Linked DNA regions of Homo sapiens. The protein of the gene in region 1 purifies or fractionates together with the protein of each later gene. This does not show direct contact. Each region holds a gene or a part of one and is shown on either strand. Other genes may lie near its edges.

Region 1 (4,825 bases):
GCAGTCTTTCAAACATTGTAGAACCTCTGGTAGAGGCTGTAAGTTTCCATTTCTTGTCAGATGGCAAGGAATACCATCTAAACGAAGCATAAACCCATTGCCACATTTGCTCATCCAAATGTATTTACCCTTCTTTCAAAGGGTAGGTTTTCTTTGATCTCTGTATAGAAACATGTATAAAGAGAGAAGATAAAAGTGTATCTCACTAGCTTTAGTTGAGCCATAGGATTTTCTTTGGTGGACTCTTAGAGCCATATAATGTTTCTTCTAAGCCATTGGATTAATTCTCAGTTCTCTTCAGTCCCCTAGGTTAAAGAGCAAGTGTACAGGAGGATTGCAGCCTCCCGTTCAGTACGAAGATGTTCATACCAATCCAGACCAGGACTGCTGCCTACTGCAGGTCACCACCCTCAATTTCATCTTTATTCCGATTGTCATGGGAATGATATTTACTCTGGTAAGTGGGGACTCAGGATGTCATTCTCAGCTCCTTTTTTTTTTTTTTTTTCATTCTGAAAGGAGGTGAACCGCAGCTCTTTTTTTTTTTTTTTTTTTTAAGAGACGTGGTCTCACTCTGTCACTCAGGCTGAAGTGCAGTGATGGAATCATCACTCATTGCAACCTCAAAACTCCTGGGCTTAAGCTATCCTCTTGCTTCAGCCTCCCAAGTAGTTAGGACTACAGGTGTGCACCACCACCCCTAGCTAATTTTTATTTTTTGTTGCAATGGGTGTCTCACAGCGTTGCTGAGGCTTGTCTCAGACTCCTAGCCTCAAGCAGTTCTTCCACGTCGGCCTCTCAAGTGCTGAGATTATAAGTGTGAGCCACTGCATTCAGCTTTTTTATAGATTTTTGCTATATCTGAGGTTTGAAGGATATTTGTAAATTTAACCATGAAGGAAGGTATCTTTTTTCAAAAAAAAAGTTTGAACTCAGTCCTGTATATTAGCAACAGACAGATTTGTGGAGACATTAATTATATCTGAGAGTATTTTACCTTGTTTCCTTCTTTGTAGGAAAGGGAATGTTTTTGCATTTTCATGTGTAGTGATGATTAATGATTGAGAAACATTATCCTATTAGGAAGAATGATGAGATATATACATGGGCACTGTATGTCAGGACCTTGAGGCATGCATATGGGGTTACAAATGGGATATTAAAATACAGGGTGACCAGCTCAGCTCTGTCCTTTGTGTGATATTATCACTGTTCAAGGCTTGGCCAGTAATTAGTAAACAACGTATGTGCCTCTGGCATATTTTTCCAGGTTTTAAAAATTTTTCATTGGCTTGGCAACTGGAGAGTTCATGTAATTTGTCTTCTCTGTATCTTAGGCTTACATTCAGAAATACATGAGGTTCCCCTTCCACAATGAAAGTAGCTTTTTTAAAATGGTAAATGACTTCAAATAATACATAAATATACTGACAAAGTAAAGGTGACTTAGACTTCCACTATCCTGTAACTGCAATTAATCTTTTGGGAACTGTTCTCTTAATGTGTCTGTTAATATGTATGTACTCTCTCTCTCTCAAATAATTTTGTATAATTGAGATTGTGTCATATATACAGTTTTGTTTTGTTTTTTTTGAGATGGAGTCTCGCTCTGTAGTCCATGCTGGAGTGCCGTGGTGCGCAGTCTCGGCTCCCTGCAACCTCTGTCTCCTGGTTTCAAGTGATTCTCCTGCCTCCGCTTCCCAAGTAGCTATCTGGGATTACAGGTGCCTGCCACCACACCCAGCTAATTTTTGTATTTTTGGTAGAAATGGGGTTTGCTCAGGCTGGTCTCAAACTCCTAACCTCAGACAATCTGCCTGCCTTAGCCTCCCAAAGTGCTCATTAGGGAGGCTTTCTTTAGCATAGTTTAAACGTGAAGCTGAGAAGGCCTTATAAAATTCTCCTTAATTTTTTATATCTTTAAAGGTTGGCTGGGCGTGGTGGCTCATGCCTGTAATCCCAGCACTTTGGGAGGCCGAGGTGGGCAGATCACTTGAGGTCAGGAGTTTGAGACCAGCCTGGCCAACATGGCAAAACCCTGTCTCTACTAAAAATACAAAAATTAGCCGGTCATGGTGGTGCACGCCTATATTCCTAGCTACTTGGGAGGCTGAGGCACAAGAATCGTTTGATCCCAGGAGGCGGAGGTTGCAGTGAGCCGAGATCACATCACTGCACTACAGCCTGGGCAACAGAACGAGGTCCTTTCTCAAAAAAAAAAAAAAAAGGTGTTTGTTTTATAATTTAGAGATTAATCTTGTGGCCTAGCCAGTATAAATTAGTCTGGACTATTTCATTTCAGAGTGAGCTCTTGGAAACCAAGGTTGTGTAAGTTGGATACTGAATTTGCTTTTCCATTTCAGTTTACTATCAATGTGAGCACGGACATGCGGCATCATCGAGTGAGACTGGTGTTCCAAGATTCCCCTGTCCATGGTGGTCGGAAACTGCGCAGTGAACAGGGTGTGCAAGTCATCCTGGACCCAGTGCACAGCGTTCGGCTCTTTGACTGGTGGCATCCTCAGTACCCATTCTCCCTGAGAGCGTAGTTACTGCTTCCCATCCCTTGGGGGCAGCCTCGAGTGTAGTCCATTAGTAATCAGATTCCAGTTTGGACAGGGTGGCTGGATTGTATATCTCGTTAGTAATGTACATGCTCTTCAGGTTCTAGGGCTCCTGTTAGGGGAGGGAGAAATGTTGAATCAAGAGGGAAAACAACTACTATGATTTATAAACATATTTTAATGTAAAAATTTGCATTTAAAAGGAGTGGCCCTGTTTTCTGTGTTAAAACCCCATTTGGTGCTATTGAGTTTGTTCTTTATTCTTTTATCCCAGTGAAAATTGTTGATCTTGCTGTAGGGAAAAATTAAACTCTTTGAATCTCCAAACAAGGAAGTTTCAGCATTCCCTTATGGATCAGAGGAACCTTAGAGGCCTGAAATTGTTGCTTCCAGTTTAGCTGCCCCTCAAATTCAAGTGAATATTTTCCCTTCTCCCTTTACCCTTCTCCAGAAATAAAGCAGGTGACAGGGTTTTCAGAATCTTACCATATTGACTTGTGTATCTTTTTTAAAAAATAATTTGTGATATTTATTGCATACATTTTCTTTTGGCAGTTTTGGATTTTAGGTATTTTTTTGCATGAGGCTGATAATGGTGATGATGACTTTATACCCTTGGTACTATACTAGGAACTTTACATAGTATCTCTACTTCTCACAGTCTTGCAAAGTAGGTGATATTATTCCCATTTTATAGTTGAGAAAACGGAATTAGTGACTGTACCTATAACACCAGTAAATGCAGAGCCAAGATTCTGACCCAGGTCTTTTTGTTGTACCATAAGTTTAAAAGATGAGTCTCATTTTTCTTGTGGTAGATGGTGGTAAAAAGGAGTAGGCAGAGTGTACATAGATAAAAAAAAGTAAAAGGGTAAGTAAAAAATTGATTGTGGTATATGTTATTCTAATCAGCCAAAAAAGTTTAGAAGATTGATGAAATGATCTTTTAAATATGTATTTCTGAATAAAATGTAAAACCAAGAAAGTTATTTCAGGAAGGATAGTGACCCTTTCCTTGAACTGTTAGAAGGGCATTTATTAGGCTAAAACGTCATTAACAAAATGCATTGCATGTTGAAACCAGCCTCTTGAACCATAAGCACTTAGCGACTTTGCTCTGCCCTGTACTGTGCTGCTTCTGCTGTCATCCTGTGTGCCTACAGAAGCCTGGTCTTCCGTCCATGCAGAAATGCTTATGTCCTCCTGTTGTTTAGATGACTCCTATTGTTCAGGTGTACTCTGAGAAGAGAATCACGTTTTTCTGTTTTGCTAAGGAGAAAACCTTGCTGCTTGTCTCTCCTCCCACCCTCCACCATCCAAAATTAACCAGTGAGCTGGATATTACCTGGATATTGCCAGGAGGTGGGCATTAAGACAGTATTCTTTAAAAGTGAAAATCTTGTGAGGCAAACTGCTAAATTCACATTTTTGTTTTTTTTTTTTTACCATCTTCCCTAGGAATATTCCTAGAAAGCATCTGCTTAATTTTGCTGCTAACAGCTAACCTTATCCCACGTTGAGGGTGGTATTAAAACTGTTCACACAGAGTGAGCCTGGGTCAGTCAAAAACAGAATTTGGGCATTTGAGTGATAACAGACAACCTAAGGACAATGAGCACTTTGCAGATCTCTACAATTAAAAGTTGCCTCTTTGAGGCAGGAGGGGAGAAGCACAGTCCCTGCCAGGTTGCCTGAACTAAAGATGCCATGGAGCAGGAGTGTCTTGGTGCATTGTTCCCCGCTTAGGAGTACCTTTAAAAAGGGGGTGAAATAAATTTGGCTTAATAATTGTATTCTGACTCAGCTCTGAGTTTTTTGTGTCAAATTCCATGGTATGGTGACAGATACAGTACTAGATACTGCCTCAGCTCTCTCTCAGCATAATATTGACAAACATTTGGTAAAATGTGTTACCAGTCGTTATCTTGGCTTCAGCCTTCCTCTGCATTGGCTGAGTTGCCGTTTCTAGCATGATACATGCTTTATTAGTGACAGGATGTGAAGTGTCTCAGGGATTTCCTTTTGGTGAGGACCCCAGACCACCCGAAGAAGAATTAGAACTTTCTGGACTACAGGTTATATACTGTGATTTTGCTCTGTCAAGCAACATAAATTGATCCTTGAACGCTGTGAGAGTTATGGACACAGACCCTCACACAGTTGAAAATCTGCTATGACTTTTGACTGCCCGAAAACTTAATAGCCTACTGTTGACTGGAAGCCTTATTGATAACATAAACAGTTGATTAATGTGCATTTTG
Region 2 (4,825 bases), on another chromosome or scaffold:
CTATTTTAAGGATGGGGAGCATGCAAAATATAAACTTCCACAGGACGTAGGAGCAGTAGCTACAGGGAGAAATCTTCAGATGGCATGCACAACAGATTGGGTATTTTGAAACTGACTCTTAAATAAAAGAAAATGCTTTTGGCCTACTGAGGAGTTACTGAGAAGACTCCTACGAACCTAACCACTCCGAAACTAGATGGCAAAATTCTTAACTCCATTACAGTCATTTAACACAGATCAAAATGAGTATTTAAACCAATATTGTCAATGTACATGTGACTCAAGACTTCACACCCAAAGTCTTCAGACAAAAAAACTTCCTAAATTACTTAAAATTTAAAAACTGAAAATCCTGTATTAATGGCAATTTTCAATTAACTGACCGTCAAGCCTTTTTAGCATTGCCACAGATAAACATGTTCTACCTCTGATTCAGTCTTAAAATACTCGCCATGTATTGTATTATGAGAGGAAAAAAAAAACCTTACCCAATAATTATCTATATCTATATCACTGAGGCCATGGAAAACTTAAAATTTCAACCATTCAAAATACCTGGGAACATTCCCTGTGGCACATTTCTATCAAGCAAAATAAGGAAATTAATTCAAGGGGACTTACAGAGTAATTTTAATTCTTTCTCTGAAATGGACTCTGGTGCCTGTAAAGAGATAAATACAGATTCTGTTCCAGTTTAAAAGAGAAGATTAACAAAGGGTGCGGCACAAAGCCAATCACTGTGAGATGGGAAGGCTTTCTCCAAGAGCTGGGAGAGCACTTTAAAAATATCTTGTTTCCTTATCACAAGCTATCCCATTAGGCAGGGAAATGACAGCTCCCTCTAAAGAAGCACAGAGGCAGTGCCACACCCTCTGTCTCTAAACCCTTTCTGGCTGGAGTTACGTGCTGAGGCCTGTATGGGCACAGTGTGCCCAGTAGCTTACCTGGCCAATGGACTGCAGCAATTTGGCAACATGATTACCCACAGCGGCAGCATCTTTCTTTGCTTTTTCACGGTAACTAAAAAAGAATAAAAAGCAATTACTAACAAATTTTTAAATTAGCAAAATTTAAATTGTTACCATGAACAAAAATTTTCTTTCCTTTTCATGAAAAAACACAGGTCTGACAATGTATGAAATGTGAAAATGCCAGGGAAATGCTATCAACAGCACCATGAGTAGCTGGGAATCTTTCCAGTGTTAGTGACGGACTCTCAGTGCCCACTAAAACCCAGGGTCCCTCTAACAGCACCCAACTTAAAAACTGCTCCCCTAGAGGGATCTATGATTTCGGCTTCTGTGACAGAGGACCTGAAAAAATACATTACTGAAGAACATGACTTATCTCCTGGAAGTCAAGTCCAAGGAAAGTTAAATACATTAAAACTGTTCATCTCCAATGTAAAACTTCTTTGTTTTTTGAGACAGGATCTCGCTCTGCCACCCAGGCTGGAGTACAGTGGCGCAGTCCTGGCTCACTGCAGCCTCAACTTCCCACGCTCAACTGATCCTCCCACCTCAGCTTCCCAAGTAGCTGGGAATTCAGGCACACGCTACCATGCCCGACTAATTTTTGTCTTTTTTGTAGAGACGGAGTTTCACCATGTTGCCCAGGCTGGTCTTGAACTCCTGGGTTCAAGTGATTTAGAAACTGAAAATACTGTATTAATGACAATTTTCAATTAACTGACCTTCATACCTTTTTAGCATTGCCATAGATAAACATGCTCTACCTCTGATTGTTTTAAAATACTCTGTATTTATTATGAGAGGAAAAAAAAACCCTTACCCAATTATTATCTGTATCTATACCACTGAGACAGACCATGGAAAACGTAAAATTTCAACCATTTAAAACAACTGTGAACATCCCTTGTGGCACATTTCACCACCCGCTTTGGCCTCCCAAAGTGCTGGGAATACAGGTGTGAGCCACTGCATCCGGCCATAAAAGTTTTCTTTACGTCTATTTACCTTTCACCCTCTAAAAATCATCAGTGTTCAGGCTGACTACCTCCCATGTAAGGTCATACTTCTTTCTATCCTCAATTGACCTTCCCCAAGTTTTAAGTAGTTGAACTCTTAGGCTAGGACAACAAACCAAGATTCGTTCAATGGTGACATGATAAAGAGTGAAATCTGTCTGGGGAAGAGAGATCATCTCTGTGTGACATTACTTGGACCCCAAAGAAACCGAGCCAGCAGACCTGGATTCTTTGCACCATGCCCTAACTATACGAGGGTCATATTCATTGAGACCCATCCCTGTGATAGTCTATCTGGGTTCAGGCTAGTGATACCTGGATAGCAAGATGTCTAGCTATAGTCATAGACTATAACTTATGAAACATTAAGATAAAAAATTCATCAAACCTTCATGGTTTTAAGTTACAAATACAAGGTAGTATAGGGCCATAGCTAAGCATACAGGCTCTGGTACTGGGTTTCCTGGGGTTCAAATCTTGGTTCTGCCATTTACCAGCTATCTGACCTTGTATAAGTAACCTTTTCAATACCTTAGTTTCTTCATGTGTAAAATGGGGCCGGTAACAGTCTCTCTCTCTCTCATAAGGTCGTTGTGAACCTTGTGTGTGTGTTAAATTACTTAATACATATAGTTCATAGCACAGAGTTAAGGGATCAAATATTAAGTTTATCATGAAGTATGAAAAAAAACTCTGCCTCCTAGGCGTATGTGGTAATTCTGTATTTCCCATTCAATTTTGCTTTGAGCTTAACAAGAATTGCCCCCTAAGTTCTTTTTTTTTTTTTTTTTTTTTTTGAGACGGACTCTTGCTCTGTCTCCAGGCTGGAGTGCAGTGGCACGATCTTGGCTCACTGCAACCTCCGTCTCCTGGGTTCAAGCGATTCCCCTGCCTCAGCCTCCCGAATAGCTGGGACTACAGGTGCGCACCACCACACCTGGCTAATTTTTTGTATTTTTTTAGTAGAGACAGGGTTTCACCATGTTGGCCAGGATGGTCTTGATCTTCTGACCTTGTGATCCACCCGTCTCGGCCTCCCGAAGTGGTGGGATTACAGGCGTGAGCCACCACGCCCGGCCTAAGTTCTTTTTTTTTTTTTTTGAGACAGAGTCTCACTCTGTCGCCCAGGCTGGAGTGCAGTGGTGCGATCTCCGCTCACTGCAAGCTCCGCCTCCCGGGTTCACGCTATTCTCCTGCCTCAGCCTCCCGGGTAGCTGGGACTACAGGCGCCTGCCACCACGCCCGGCTAATTTTTTTGTATTTTTAGTAGAGACAGGGTTTCACCGTGTTAGTCAGGATGGTCTCAATCTCCTGACCTCGTGATCCGCCTGCCTCGGCCTCCCAAAGCGCTGGGATTACAGGTGTGAGCCACTGCGCCCAGCCTGGTCTAAGTTCTTCAGCTTATTTTTACTTATTTATTTGAAACAGGGTCTTGCTCTGTCACCCAGGCTGAAGTGAAGTGGCATGATCATGGCTCACTGCAGCCTCAAACTCCTGAGCTCAAGAGATCCTTCTGCCTCAGCCTCCTGAGTAGTTGAGATTAAAGGCGAACACTACCATGCCCACCTAATTTTTCAATTTGTAGAGATGGAAGTCTCACTATGTTGCCCACGATGGTCTCAAACTCCTGGACTCAAGCAATTCTCCCACCTTGGCCTCCCAAAGTGTTGGGATTACAGGCATGAGCCACTGCAGCTGGCCTAGTTTATTTATAAGCAATGAGGTTGTAATAAACTTTCATTTGATTTCTGACAGGATGATAAAATGTTTATCTCTAATATAATCAGACTTTTTCTATTACATAGTTTGAAAACAGTGACATACACGTTTTGCAGTTTTATATATTTGCCTGAATCTGCAATCATATCAGGAATTGTGCCTCGAACAGGTAAATTTCCTTGACCCTCTTTGGCCACAAATTCCTTTAAGGCACGAGCTAAAATCCAAAATGATGGAGTCTAAAAGAATAAGAAAAAATTAACATTAAGTGGCGTTTTACTTTGACCCAAAGTTTTAGCAGCAATGTTTTTACTTTTGTTGTTGTTACCTGTTTGGTGATATTTATGCAGCGATCATCATTAAATATATCTTCAATACTGCTTGGGATCTAACAAAGGAACATGAAACATTTACTTACACAGTATTAAGAATTCGCCCATCTTTATTTTCAGTGCTATTTCTTCAGATATGTTCTTTGAATTCTCAAATTGTAATCAAATACAAACTTCTGATTGGTTTATAATTTTATTTAGAATCAGTACCATATGAAGATTTGATGGGGAAAGAATGGAAGAAAGACCTCTCCGGCCCACTGTTGCTACCATTTAATACCTATTCTCTTATACCATAAATGGGGTAAAGAAGGGGCCCCAGTAAATTATTTTATATAGTTACATCTGAAGACAAAACAGATTATAGACTCGCAGTATATCATGATTTTCCATCTTGTCAAAAATCTGAAACCCTTGCACCCTAATTAGTGACCGTTGAGACAACCACTCTGAAAAAAACTAAAACCATAAAGTAATTTTATTGCTAGCAAGATCTTCATACGTTAATCAAGAGTATAAAGCTGAGCACAATGGCTCATATCTATAATCCCAGCATTCAGGAGGCCAAGGTGAGAGGGTCATTTGAGCCCAGGAGTTTGAGACCAACCTGAACAAAACAGGAAGACCCCGTCTATAGAAAACATAAAAGTAAATTAGCTGCGCGTGGTGGCACGTGCCTGTGGTCCCAGCTACTTGGGAGGCTGAGGTGGGGGGATCACTTGAGCCCAGGAGGTCAAGGCTGCAGTGAGCAGTGATTGTGTCACTGCATTCTACCCTGGGCACCAAT
Region 3 (4,825 bases), on another chromosome or scaffold:
ATTGTTAAACAGGAAATATTTATTAGATTCCTATTGTGTTACATATTTTTACATTTTATTTAAAATATGTATTGCCAGGAGCGGTGGCTCACGCCTGTAATCCCAGCACTTTAGGAGGCTGAGGCGGGTTAATCACCTGAGGTCAGGAGTTCGAGAGCAGCCTGGGCAACATGGCAAAACCCCGTCCCTACTAAAACTACAAAAATTAGCTGGATGTAGTGGCTCACGCCTGTAATCCCCAGCACTTTGGAAGGCCAAGGCAGGCAGATCACCTAAAGTCACTTTGGCAAATAATATAAACAGTTCACAGAAAAGGACATACATATGGCCTTTTAAAAATATAAAAAGATGCCAGGCACAGTGGCTCACGTCTAATCCCAGCACTTTGGGAGGCTGAGGCAGGCAGATCACAAGGTCAGGAGATTGAGACCATCCTGGCTAACACAGTGAAACCCCATGTCTACTAAAAATACAAAAAATTAGCTGGGCATGGTGGCGGGCGCCTGTAGTCCCAGCTACTCGGGAGGCTGAGGCAGGACAATGGTGTGAACCTGGGAGGCAGAGCTGGCAGTGAGCCGAGATTGCGCCACTGCACTCCAGCGTGGTCAACAGAGTGAGACTCTGTCTCAAAAAAAAAAAAAAAGTATTAAAAACAAATGCACTTGTATACTTTAAAAGATTTAATTTTTATTTTATGTGACTTATAGCTCAATAAAACTTATTTTTAAAATATGTGCATGATTTCTTTTTTTTTTCTGTTTCATTTTTTATGGGAAATCCCTCCTTAAACTTAAGGAGAATGTAAACCTAAATACAGATATCAAGGTGTCTTTATTCATTTACCGCTGCTTACATTTTGGAAGTATGTTGATTCTGAGGAAAGAAATCAAGGTGGATCTATCACTAAGAAGTAAAATTGATCCATAATATTTATGTCATGTCATGGTATTTGAAAATGTTATATTACTAAGAGCTTCGATGGCAGTCATTTTTTTTTTCTTTTTCCTTTAAATAGTCATGTTGGAAGCCTCTGCAGAGAACATTTTACAGCAGGACTTTTGCCATGCTATCAAAGTGGGAGTGAAATATACCCAACAAATAATTCAGGGCATTCAGCAGTTGGTAAAAGAAACTGGTGTTACCAAGAGGACACCTCAGAAGTTATTTACCCCTTCGCCAGAGATTGTGAAATATACTCATAAGTAAGAACATCTGTGCAAATGAAAATATGAAATTGTCATCAGATTTAATTTCCTCGTGGGAGAGAAACTTCCCATGGAAGCACTGCCCATGCATTACTTCATAAATAGCACTTTTCTGTTTTAAGAGTCATTCCCATAAATATCTGCTTACTCCCTTAAAAAGGATAAGCCCACATCACTCTTGTAAGACCTAACTTTGAATCTCAAATGAAAGAGTGTGTTTATTGGTCAAGATTCAGGTAAGCACCACATCTCTCCACGTCTAGGAAAAAGAATAAAACGTTAAGATATTTGAATATCTAAGGAAACTGTTGGAATTCTCAAAAAGAAATCAGAGGTAATCACTGTTACATGCCCAGTGCTTAGAACGTTAGGCAGACACTCAGTAAATGTAAATGAATCACTGGAAAATTATTTTATTTGAAAAAATTGAAAAGGTTAATACTTTCCCTTAATGTCAGTTGCACAGCCATGAGTTGGAAATTAAATTAACTCTTTCTAGCAAAAGAGTTTCATGTGATAATGGAGCCAAAATGGGTAGAATGAAGAAAGGAAGAGGTTAAAAAGAATATATGAAAGGTGAAATTAATTGAACAATTAAGAAGAAAAGAACAGGATACTACATGTGGTTTCCCCTGGGAGGGTGGGAGAAAGAAATTTGTGTTCTATACCATAAATAGTAAACAGATTAGCAATGATAAATAGCAATATAAATTTTCAATTCTTTCTGAAGTATTTATTAAAGTTTTAGCTGATTATTATTAAATATTTCAGTTTTGTTTATAATAGAAACTGCCTCTTGTTTCCAGATATTATTATGCTAACATTTATTTTCTGCTTAAATAGACTTGCTATGGAGAGACTCTATGCAGTTTTTACAGATTACGAGCATGACAAAGTAGGTATACCTGAGTTTTGTCTTCCATAATTGCCCTAGGAATACATTTTTGTCATAACTCATGTAATTTTCTTTATGAATGCTAGTCCTATTTTTATTAAAAATCTCTAAATGAAAAACTAACAAAAGCCTAATTGTTTCTCCATTCTTTTGTTTTGTTTTGTTTTTGAGACAGAGTCTCTCTCTGTCGCCCAGGCTGGTGTGCAGTGGCATGATCTCAGCTCACTGCAACTTTCGCCTTCCAGCGATTCTCATGCCTCAGCCTCCCAAGTAGCTGGGATTACAGGTGCACGCCACCACACTCAGCTATCTTTTGTATTTTTAGTAGAGACGGCCATGTTGGCCAGGCTGGTCTCAAACTCCTGGCCTCAAGTGATCTGCCCACCTTGGCCACCCAAAGTTCTTTTCTTTTTAATATAAGTTTTAGGGGAGTGTACAAATGTATTTGAATGAATTAACATGTAGTATTTGTCATAAATCAAGAACCAATTCCAATATTTTAAAGAATATTAAAGAAATCAGAGTAATTCACAATGTGTTCATTGTATAATAATTAGAAAACAGAAATATTAAATGTTGTCATGTATATGTAATAACTGAACCTCAACTTTCTTTTAGGTTTCCAGAGATGAAGCTGTTAACAAAATAAGATTAGATACGGAGGAACAACTAAAAGGTAAATTTTATTTTATTTTATTTTATTTTTTTGCTGAGGGCAGCTTTAATAAGGCATGGCCTGACTCTTGCTTCTTGGGATTAAAGGTCAAAGAGGAAAGGCATCACATCTGTAGGAAAAGAAGAATTCAAAGGACTTTCAACTTTACAGCTGCTGTTCCCTAGACCTAGAATGCTCTCTCATAGCAGGTGGTCTTCTTCTAACCCAAGGTTCAAATGCCACCTCTTCTCCAAAGCTTCCCCGAACTGTTTCGGGGAAAGAGAAAGTCCCCTTTGCACAGAACCGCTATTACTATGTATTTTTTAATTTTAAAAGCATTAAAAGAAATAATAGACTTTTTTTTTTTTTAACTTTAGTTGAAGATCTCAAATAAATGTTACTCTCATTGCTTCTCAGCTTTATTTTCAATAAACTTGTAATAATGATAGCTCACAAGGTTACTGCTAAATTAACTTCTATGAATGTAGCTAGCACTACATTTGATGCAGAGTAGGTACCTAGTAAATGTTGAATGTGAATGTTCCTGATCTTTTCTGAATCAAACTCCTACCATACAAGAAATGTAACCTGGTATCTTATCATTTGAAAACCCAAATATATTCTTTAAAATTCTTGAGTTCTTGATCTGTGAAATTGCAGTGTTAATAATACCTGGTTTATGGGGATTAAATGAGTGAATCATTTACATCTGTGCCTGCCACACCGTAAGTGTTCAATAAATGTTAACTGATGCTATTCTTAATACCTAGTGGAATCATAAGATACAGAACTTAGGTAATTTAGCTCTCCAGAAATTATTAAGCAAAGGATCTTACTGTATAATATCAACCTCTGGCCAGGCGCGGTGGCTCACGCCTGTAATCCCAGCACTTTGGGCGGCCGAGGCAGACAGATCACGAGGTCAAGAGATCGAGACCATCCTGGCTAATACGGTGAAACCCTGTCTCTACTAAAAATACAAAAAGTTAGCCGGGCGTGGTGGCGGGCACCTGTGGTCCCAGCTACCCAGGAGGCTGAGGCAGGAGAATGGCGTGAACCCAGGAGGTGGAGCTTGCAGCGAGTCGAGATCGCGCCACTGCACTCCAGCTTGGGCAACGGAGCGAGACTCTGTCTCAAAAAAATAAATAAATAAATAAAAATAATAGTAATAATACCAACCTCACACAAACTGAATATAAATGAAGTATGACATAGTTTTTGTTAATTTTTCTAATAGACAAATATACTCTCACATGAATATTTATTTTAAGATAAAAAACTGGCCAGGCGTGGTGGCTCATGCCTGTAATCCCAGCACTTTGGGAAGCCAAAGTGGGTGGATCACTTGAGATCAGGAGTTCAAGACCAGCCTGGCCAATATGGTGAAACCCCATCTCTACCAAAAATACAAAAATTAGGCGGGCATGGTGGCAGGCTCCTGTAATCCCAGCTACTTGGGAGGCTGAGGCATGAGAATCACTTGAACCTGTTAGGCAGAGGTTGTAGTGAGCTGAGACCGCCACTGCACTCCAGCCTGGGCAATAGAGCAAGACTCCATCTCAAAAAAAAAAAAAAAAGTGCTGTTAGCATTGATATTAAGGCCATTAATTGTAACTGTCATTGAATATGTTTAGTCCTTTCTCACTACATTTCATCCTATTTGGTAAGAAAGAAATTTTATAGCGAATATTGTCTTATTTTAAAAGAATAGTGACTTTTTGTTTGTATTATACATAGTAGAATATCTTCACGACCCTCTGGGTTGATAGGATATTTTAAACATTTTGGTACTGATTGTTTTCCTTTCCAAGTACAACTCAGTTAAGCAGAAAAGATATTAAAGTCTAATATTAAAAATTATTCTTTTCTGAAGAAGATACAATCTAATATATCTTTCTGTGACCATTTCTTGTGTTTTGGTTACTTTGAAGTTATGTTTAATAAACCATACACATGAGAGAATAGTACTTAAAACTTGGCATAAATTAATTGATAGGGTAGAATAGCTTAACATCTAAACCCTAAGCTAAAAATAAAATAAAATAAAACCATAAGCCTTTGAGGCTGACA
Region 4 (4,825 bases), on another chromosome or scaffold:
GAAACCTATTCATTTGTAGAAAAATACTAATCTGAAATCATATCACATATGACCTTGTCAGTGTAACAGAACTACCGCAAACACAAGTTTTTCATGATGTTAGTTTCAATGTAAAAAAAACTAAATCCTTTAAGTGTCTACATGCTAATTTTTAACATAACTGTGATCTGGCCTACTTTCTGAGTGTTTTGAAGTGCCTACTCATGTATGCATTTTGGAATTTTTTCTGATAACAGGAATCACCCCCAGCTATGTAACCAAAAATTAGTTCCCTATACCTGTGTTAAGAAGGTGCTTGCTTCCTATAATAGTGCCCTGCAAAATAAGCACCAAAGGAATAACTGCTATCTGTAAGCCTCAAGCTCCCCAGTTTTTTTTTAAGATGGAGTTTCGCCCTTGTTGCCCAGGCTGGAGTGCAATGGCGCGATCTCAGCTCACTGCAACCTCCACCTCCTGGGTTCAAGTTGATTCTCCTGCCTCAGCCTCCCTAGTAGCTCAGATTACAGGCACCTGCCACCAAGCCCGGCTAATTTTTTGTATTTTTAGTAGAGACGGGGTTTCACCATGTTGGCCAGGCTGGTCTCAAACTCCTGATGTCAGGTGATCCACCTGCCTTGACCTCCCAAATTGCTGGGATTACAGGCATGAGCCACCACGTCTGGCCACCCCATCTGTTTTAACCAGAGTTGAAGTCAATAACACAGGATCCCTTCCAGCTTCTGAATTGCATGTTTACAATTTTCTCACCATGGATATGCAGAAGAGGAAATTTGGTATAGCAGGGGACTCAGGTCTTACTGAATTAGGGAGTAGCAGAAAAATGTACTATTTTTGGAGAAAAGCGGCAGAGAAAAAAAATGGCTTCTGGATAAATTGCTCTGTCCACCAGCCTTGGCTCCATCTGAGATCTTATTCAATTTGTTACATTAAAATCAAAAGGAAAGAAAAGATCCATGAAATGCAGCCACCCCAGTAGTGGTGAAAAAAGCACTCTGCTTTTCCAAATTTATGCTAAGTTGGTTAATTCTTGAGTGTTTCCTTCACAGCTTTCAAAGCCAAATGAAAAGAATTTTAAATACTTTGTTGTACACACTTCCCCTGTATAAACTATAAGTTACCAAAATAGAGCCAGTCACACCAAATCAATGAATTTTCAGATTCTTTCTGAATTTCAATTTCATAAGCAGAAAGTAATAATGCCTGCAGGTGGTTTTGAGAATTAAGAAAACAATGTAATCCCCTCAGCATATTTCCTGACATGCAGCAGGCACTAATGTGGCACATGTCTATTTTATAGTTACTCCATGCTAAATAAGTTTGATATAACTGAGTTACAACAGATTTTTCTACCTGTGAAAAAGCATTTAAGAATTATATTTACCTCTATATTATTGTTCATTAGCCCACAAGCATCAGCAAAGTCTGGATGTTTTGTGTTGATATAAGCCAGTTCAATTGCCACTAAGTTATGGACCTAGAAAAAAAGTAAGTTAGGCGATATACAAAAATACATCAACCATATTTTACTTTGAGAAATTTATATATAAAACTTATGAAACAGACAATACCGAAAAAGTACAGGAAACTTATGCCTAAATTACTTGATAATTATATTCCAACTGATAAATCTTATGCCAAACAATAATTTACTCTAGCTTTAAAATTATTTACATTTCAGCATCTAAAACTGCATTTCTAAGAGGGAAAAATAACATTAAAGTAACTACAAGTATTTTACTCTTAGGGAAAAATAGTCATCTACCTAATGCAAATCTAAATTCCAACACTTTATGCAACTTTGCTATTAAAACTTCAGATCATCCACTATTCCCTGTCACTTTTTTAGTTCATTTTCAACAATAAGAAAATAAGTTCGTAACAAGGCATAAGTTAAAGATGTTAACTTATTTGGGTAAAGGATACATCTAAGGACCTGAGGTAGTGACTGATTAGCCTTAACTATAAAGCACCTAGTTAAAATATTATATGTAGTTCAAAATCCTAAGAGGAAAATAAAAAAGAAAAGTTAAAATTAATTTATCCAGCCCTCTACAGAATTGCTAAGTCTTTTTGTTTGTTTGTTTGTTTGAGACGGAGTTTCGCTCTCATTGCCCAGGCTGGAGTGCAATGGCGCGATCTCGGCTCACCGCAGCCTCCACCTCCCAGGTTCAAGTGATTCTCCTGCCTGCCTCAGCCTCCCCAGTAGCTGGGATTACAGGCATGCACCACCACGCCCGGCTAATTTTGTATTTTTAGTAGAGAGGGGGTTTCTCCATGTTGGTCAGGCTGGTCTCAAACTTCCGACCTCAAGTGATCCACCCGCCTCGACTTCCCAAAGTGTTGGGATTACAGGTGTGAGCCACCACACCACTGAGTCTTACAGAGAGAATAAACTTGAGCCCTTTATTATGTGCTGTCCTAACAAATCTCAGGTATCAGAACAGCACTTATCAGTCCAGAACTGGGTAAAAAGGGTCTATTAAAATGAAGGTCCAATGATTCTGGGCTAAATTCAGTCTTAGACATCAGAATCTGAGGGCTATCCTTGCTAAAGAAACAACCAAGCAGCAGCACTTACATTCCAAGGATGGTTTTGTACTCTTAGTAAACCTCCACGGGGTTCACCATCCTGAGCCAAGGACCCAAATGCACTTTTAGTGATCAGAAAGAAAACAAAAAACAAAAAACCCAGCCAACAATTAGAGGCATGAGGGCAATTTTAAATGCTTATCCCATATTTCTGCCAATTTCAGCATTTTTATTTGTGTGGATAGCAGCAACCCACAGAATAGTAGCAAGCAACTACGATATTATAGTTATTAGGTCATAACAAGCAAACTGCAGAAGTGGCCAGATTACTCCGATGTACCTCAAAGTAACAGTGTGCTATAAATGCTCAGTTTACTGAGGCTAAAGATGGAACTAATTTTCTCTTAAGATCAGTGGTACTAAATAATACAGCAAAGCTATTCACACCCCTCAATCATAAATCTATTTTCAAGAAAACCCATGCCTGCAGGCTAACAATGATTAAAATATGAAGAAAAAATGCACTTTATACCAGAATTATTAAAAATTTTCCTTTAAAATGAGACTGAAACTCAACTTGTTTTTCCTCCCAATACACTGGAAAACATTATGCCTACACTCTAAAGTAACCATATAATGCTTATTAAAAAGCAGCCAAGCAAAAATTTAAACTTTTACTAATAGTAATTACAATGATCTATGCTATAGTAGCTCACCATTTCATTTGTAACAGGCAACCTTTTACGAAGAAGACAAGTCACCACTTCAACTATGGCATCATGAAGTTTAGGAAATCGTAACAATTCCTACAAATGGTAGATGAAAGAAAAACGTGTTTGTTTTTTGTTTTTTTTTTAAGTCATAGTCTCACTAAGCCATCCTCCCACCTTAGCCTCCCAAGTAGCTGAGACTACATGTAGAAGCCACCATGCCAGGCTAACAGTCATTTTCTTTTACTTAATGATCACAGAAATACTGAATTCAATTTGGAGACTACATTTAAGAATCCTATTTCAAATCACTTTCAGGTAAGGGAACTACAGATTTTACCTTGTATCCCATCTTATACATTTCCTTCCACCCAGTGAAACCACCACTTCATGTCCTTTTCTAGTTCATGTGAAACCTGTTACATTTCTCTCCGTTACCTGTGTACTGTAATTGCTACAGTGCTGAATGATCCTTTGCATTTCCTCATGAACCAGTTCCACACAGCGGAGGCTGGGCTCTTCTAGACGTTTGATTTGCCGCTTCACCAGTAACTCAAATGAAACCTCAGGCACAAATAAAGCAGGACGAGGACCCTGAGAAAATAAAACTTAGAACTCTTATTATATATGTAATTTCAGTTCTTCCCAAGGGTTAAGAAAGTCACATTTTTGGTACTTTTCATGAAAAATGCTTTTTAATTTCAAATATGAGAGCAAAATAAACTGTATAATTAAATTTAAAAAGACACAGTATATGGGTAAGAAAAACTTTAACCTCATTTTTTTTTACAGTCTAAAAAGCTAAACATACTCACAGTAGCATTTCTAATGGCAGTCAAAATGTCAATAGTGTTAAGGCCACCAAGTGGATCAACAGATTCTAAGGTTCGCCCAAAAGTCTCATGGAAAATATAACAAATTCTAGCACCACCGCATCTGAAAGGCAATGAAGTATATGGTTTCTGGCATTGCAAAAAGGGAAAGAAGATACAAGTTAGAAGTCTTTCTAGAAGCTTTAAGCTCATCTTATTTTCTGAGAAAGCCTCAGATAAACAATTTCATTCATTCCCATTACCATGTGTTCTAACTCAGCTCATTATGAACTAGTTTCTCTAATTTTTTTAAAGGGGAAAAGGAATCATTAAATTATATATATGTAAATATAATAAATGTTCTGACATAAATCAACAGTTAACTAAGAATTGCTAAGCACCTTTTCTCTGCCCTAGTTTTCCTTGAGGACAGGAAACAGTGCCTTATATTTATTTCCATTGATTCACAATCTGAAGTAGAGGTTGGCAAACTTTTTCCATAAAGGGTCACATAGTATTTTAGGCTTTTCAGGCCATACAGTCTCTGCTGCAACTACTCAACTCTACCATTAAGCACATAAGCAGCCATAGACAATATGTAAATAAATAAGTATAGCTTGTTAGCCAGGCTTGTCTCAAACTCCTGACCTCAAGTGATCCGCCCGCCTTGACCTCCCAAAGTGCTGGGATCACAGGCGTGAGCCACCCGTGCCCAGCCCTACTCTTGCTTTAGACAAATTAAATCTCTCTTTTTTTGTTGTTTTGTTTCTTTTT
Region 5 (4,825 bases), on another chromosome or scaffold:
GAGGCTGAGGCAGGAGAATGGCATGAACCCGGGAGGCAGAGCTTGCAGTGAGTGGAGATCACGCCACTGCACTCCAGCTGGGCTACAGAGTGAGACTCCGTCTAGAAAAAAAAAAAAAAAAAGATTTCTGGTTTCTTCAACCTCTTACCATCTGCATACAGTCTTTCCTACTTGTGTTTGAGGTGATGACAAAATACCAATAACTCTAGTTGTCACTATTCTGTTTCCTAAATTAAGAAACAAGTCAACTTTCTCCCAAATGCCCTATCCTGCTGTCTTTTCCCAAAGACCTGTCATTTCTCCCTTCTCGCACTATAGGAAGATCCCAAATTTTCCCCTTCAAAGCCTAACCAAGGGTCAACTCCTGCTGATCTCTCCCTTCTGGGAATTATCTGGAGCTCAAATATTATTCTGGGCCAGGTGCAGTGGCTCACATCTGCAATCCCTGCACTTTGGGAGGCCAAGGCAGGCGGGAGGATTGCTTGAGGCCAGGAATTTGACACAAGCCTGGGCACATGTCTACAAAAATAAAAAAAACTTAGCTGGGTGTGGTGGTGTGAGCCTGTAGTCCCAGCTACTTAGGAGGCGGAAGTGGGATGATCACTTGAGTCCAGGAGTTCAGGACTGGAGTGAACTAAAATGTCGCTGCACTCCAGCCTAGGTGACAGCGAGACCCCGTCTTAAAAAAAAAATAAATTTTTAAAAATGTTATTCTGGAGCTCAAAATACTTGTTTTGATTAAATAGCACCTAGCTATTTCACAGGTTAGTTTGGTTTCTCTACCCTAGCACTACTGAGAATCAGATAAGTTTTGTACTGGGGGGCTTTCTTGTGCATTCTTTTCTTTCTTGAGATGGGGTCTTGCTCTGTCACCCAGGCTGGAGTTCCGTGGTGCGATCATGGCTCGCTGCAGCCTCCCCCAGACTCAGATGATCCTCCTGCATCAGCCTCCCAAATAGCCGGGACACTACAGGTACATAGCGTGCTACCACGCCTGGCTAATTTTTCTATTTTTTGTGGAGATGGTGTTTCACTGTGTTGGCCAGGCTGGCATTCTTTTCTTTAGCAGCATCCCTAGCCTCTGCCCACTAGACAACATAGCACCCCCAGCTGAGACAATAAAAAATGTCTCTAGACAGTGTCAAACGTCTCCTGGGGGATAAAACTGCCTTTGGTGGAAAACCATCAATCTATCATACTAATGTCTTCAAATCAAGACCCCTGTCTTAGGCTTCTTGTGGTTATTTTAAGAAAAACTGGGCATACAACAGAAGCTCAAATATCTGTTAAATGACCAACCACTTAGCTGGATCCTTACTTTAAACGCAAACAGAGAAATGTGTAAGCAAACAATCAGAACAAGGAGAAATATATATAGTAAACTGATACATATTTTTCTTTTCACCAATAATACAAATTACACATATTCAAAAAAATTAAAACTTTAAACCCTTGATATAGTTTCTACAACGAGTTGTTTATCCTCAAACAAAATTCAATAGGGTAAAAAAGGGAAAGAGCAACTCGACTTCATATAGATTAACAAAAAACAAAATAAAAACAAAAAAACCAAATGTCCAAATAAACTTTATAATCCCTTCCTAGATTTACTCTCCTCAGATGACCAATGATGAAGATATCTATGGATTTGTCTCCGTAAATTTATGCTAGCATTCTCAGATCTCACCCCCATGTTAACATCTGTTTAGTTGAGAGTTAAAATCTGCAGGGACCTTCTATAACTGAGAAACAAAGGAATGCTAACCATTACGTTCCAGTAGAATGGCTATCTGGTGGGCAGGGAAAAATATCTGTATCTACACAATTATTATTTAAAAAAAGAATTCTGGAACCACTGTGTTAAATAAATGACCACCATTAATTCAGGGTAGAATTTAGCATGAAACTTAAGAAAAGGATAGCTCAAGGATGTCAGTTAAAGAAAGAAGGAAAATGATAAAAAATGTAACAATATATATATAATTAAATATATATAAATTTCATATATAATGGGAATTTAAGAAAAGGATAGCTATGCATTATCCTCTGTAGAGATACACTCTTCCTAACATATTCAAACTAGTCATTCAAATGGATGGGGAGGTGGTAGGCAACAGGATTAATGATCTATAAAAATCATAAATGGCTCATCCAGCTAAGATTCTCTTCTACATCAAATTATTTTTGCTGAAGCAGTCTGAAAACACCTAACTGGAATTCTAACACCAGGTTGGGTGCGGTAGCTCACATATGTAATCCCAGCACTTCAGGAGGCCAAGGTGGGTGGATCACCTGAGGTCAGAAGTTCAAGACCAGCCTGGCCAACATGGTGAAACCCTGTGTCTACTAAAAATACAAAAAATTAGCCGGGCATGGTGGTGCATGCTTGTAACCCCTTTACTCAGGAGGCTGAGGAGAATTGCTTGAGCCTGGGAGGCAGAGATTGCAGTAAGCCGGGACTGCACCACGGTACTCCAGCCTGGGCGAGAGCTAGACACCGTCTCAAAAAAAAAAAAAAAAAATTCTAATACTAATTAAAAAGTCATGAATGCAAAGATATGTGCGTGCATGTGGGGTGAGAAATAGGAGAATATCTGGTGAGCACAATATATTGAAAGCTAAAGCAAACTAGAATAAAAGCTAAAAGATCTGACCATAATACATGTCAGCTAATTTCTAGCTTAGTTTAACAGATCTTAGTTAAAAGTACTAATATACCACAAAATAACTTGATTACATTGTTCTTTGCAATACTGTAATACGAGTAAAACTTTCACATGGATTTAACTCTCAATATATTTAACTGGTCTAATGTTAAATGTGAAGTATTGTGCTTCAAAGGACAACATCAAGAAAGTGAAAAACAACCCAGAGACTGGGAGATATGTGCAAATTATGTATCTGATAGGGAACTCTAAGAGTCTTATATATTCTCGACATAACTCTATAATAAAAAGATGAACCCATTGAAAAAGGCAAAAGCTCTCAATAAAGATGTCTCCAAAGAAGATACATAAATGACCAGTAAGTATATGAAAAGAAAATCAACATTAGTGGCCATTAGAGAAATAAAAATCAAAACCACAATGCAATACCCCTTCACAAACAGTAGGATAGCTATAATAAAGAAGACAGGCAATTGGTAAGGATGTGGAGAAAAGTAGAACCTCACATTGCTGGTAAGAATGTAAAATTACACAGCTGCTTTGGAAAAACGGTCTGCCAATTCCTCAAAAGGTTAAAAAGAGTTATGACCCAGCAATGTACTGGTAGGTATATACTGAAAAGAAATGAAAACACATGCAGACAGAAACCTATGCACAAATGTTCACAGCAGCACTACCAATAACAGCCAAAAAGTAGAACAAAATGTCCACCAAATAAGTGTATAAATAAGATGTGGTATAAGCATACAATAGGATATTATTTAGGAATAAAAAGAAATGAAGTAATTGATGCATGTTAGAAAAGCATGAACTGTGAAAACATGTTAAGTGAAAGAAGCCAGACACAAAAGATCACATATTGTGGGCTTCCATTTACATATGCCCAGAATGGGCAAATCCACAGAGAAAGGAGACTAGCAGGTGGTTGCCATAGGCTGAGTGAGGAAGGGTTGGGGAGAAATCAGTGGTGTCTACTAATGGGGACAGGGTTTCTTTTATTGGGTGATAAAAATGCTCTAAAATTGACTAGTGCTCTAAAATAGTGATGGTTGCACAACTCTGTGAACATATTAAAAACCAGTGAATTATACACTTTAAATGGGTGAATTGCATGGTATGTGAATTATATCTCAATAAAGCTGTTACTAAAAACAAAAGCGGTCGGGCGGGGTGGCTCACGCCTGTAATCCCAGCACTTCGGGAGGCCAAGGCGGGCGGATCACAAGGCCAGGAGATCGAGACCGTCTTGCTAACACGGTGAAACCCCGTCTCTACTAAAAATTTTTAAAAAATGAATAAATAAATTTACAAAAAAAAGCAAAATATACACTCAGCAAACGTTTATTAAACATTTCCAGTGTGCCACATGGTATGTCAAGCAAAGCCCAAAGCCTATGTATCAAGACACTTCTCAGCTAGGTGTGGTGGCTCATGCCTGTAATCCCAGCACTTTGGGAGGCCAAGGCAGGAGGATTACTTGAGGCCAGGAATTCAAGACCAGCCTGGGCAACATAGTGAAGCCTCATCCTTACAAAAAATTTTTTAAAATTAGCTGGACATGGTGGCTCATGCCTGTAGTCCCAGCTACTTGGGAGGCTGAGGCAGGAAAATCACTTGAGACCAGGAGTTGGAGGATATTATAGTATGCTATGATCACGCCACCGCATTTCAGCCTGGGCAACAGAGCAAGGCTCTGTCAATCAATCAATCAATCAATCTCCCAACCATCTGTAATTTGTAATATAGTGAGATATAAATCTTTATTTCCTAATAGACAAATATTTCAACTCCATTTGCTGAATTCCTTTCCCACTGAATGACAATGCTATTTTTGTTATGAACTAAATTCCCTATAAATACATGGGTCAAACTCTAAACTCTATTATATTCCACTAATCTATTTGCCCAACCTAAAGCAATATACACTGCATAACAGTGTTTCCCATCAGAGATGGACCACTTAAGATAATAACTGTGGTGCCTTAAGATTATAATGGAGGTGAAAAATTCCTATTGCCTAGAGATGTCTTGGTGATCCTGACTCTGTGCAGGCCTAGGCTACTATGTATATTTGTGACTTAATTTTTAAGAAAAAGTTAAAAAAATTTAAATAGAGAAAAGCTTATAGAATAAGAATATAAAGAACATATTTTTGTACA

Evidence for each region.
Region 2: the proteins of TMEM183A (region 1) and NAE1 purify together in Homo sapiens (affinity purification with mass spectrometry; one large-scale study listed by BioGRID and IntAct). This does not show direct contact.
Region 3: the proteins of TMEM183A (region 1) and PNPT1 purify together in Homo sapiens (affinity purification with mass spectrometry; one large-scale study listed by BioGRID and IntAct). This does not show direct contact.
Region 4: the proteins of TMEM183A (region 1) and DNM1L purify together in Homo sapiens (affinity purification with mass spectrometry; one large-scale study listed by BioGRID and IntAct). This does not show direct contact.
Region 5: the proteins of TMEM183A (region 1) and SNX3 purify together in Homo sapiens (affinity purification with mass spectrometry; one large-scale study listed by BioGRID and IntAct). This does not show direct contact.

The regions. Positions count from the first base shown.
Region 1 is NC_000001.11:203,020,492-203,025,316, forward strand, and holds the end of TMEM183A (transmembrane protein 183A), read left to right. Parts: intron 1-301; coding exon 302-457; intron 458-2,363; coding exon 2,364-2,549; 3' UTR 2,550-4,357; downstream 4,358-4,825.
Region 2 is NC_000016.10:66,809,753-66,814,577, forward strand, and holds part of NAE1 (NEDD8-activating enzyme E1 regulatory subunit), read right to left. Parts: intron 4,095-4,825; coding exon 4,035-4,094; intron 3,946-4,034; coding exon 3,812-3,945; intron 1,021-3,811; coding exon 945-1,020; intron 662-944; coding exon 622-661; intron 1-621. UniProt on the Homo sapiens protein: Regulatory subunit of the dimeric UBA3-NAE1 E1 enzyme. E1 activates NEDD8 by first adenylating its C-terminal glycine residue with ATP, thereafter linking this residue to the side chain of the catalytic cysteine, yielding a NEDD8-UBA3 thioester and free AMP.
Region 3 is NC_000002.12:55,669,270-55,674,094, reverse strand, and holds part of PNPT1 (polyribonucleotide nucleotidyltransferase 1, mitochondrial precursor), read left to right. Parts: intron 1-1,015; coding exon 1,016-1,202; intron 1,203-2,048; coding exon 2,049-2,100; intron 2,101-2,718; coding exon 2,719-2,776; intron 2,777-4,825. UniProt on the Homo sapiens protein: RNA-binding protein implicated in numerous RNA metabolic processes. Catalyzes the phosphorolysis of single-stranded polyribonucleotides processively in the 3'-to-5' direction. Mitochondrial intermembrane factor with RNA-processing exoribonulease activity.
Region 4 is NC_000012.12:32,730,364-32,735,188, reverse strand, and holds part of DNM1L (dynamin-1-like protein), read right to left. Parts: intron 4,176-4,825; coding exon 4,055-4,175; intron 3,834-4,054; coding exon 3,678-3,833; intron 3,336-3,677; coding exon 3,246-3,335; intron 1,475-3,245; coding exon 1,382-1,474; intron 1-1,381. UniProt on the Homo sapiens protein: Functions in mitochondrial and peroxisomal division.
Region 5 is NC_000006.12:108,215,245-108,220,069, forward strand, and holds part of SNX3 (sorting nexin-3), read right to left. Parts: intron 1-4,825. UniProt on the Homo sapiens protein: Phosphoinositide-binding protein required for multivesicular body formation. Specifically binds phosphatidylinositol 3-phosphate (PtdIns(P3)).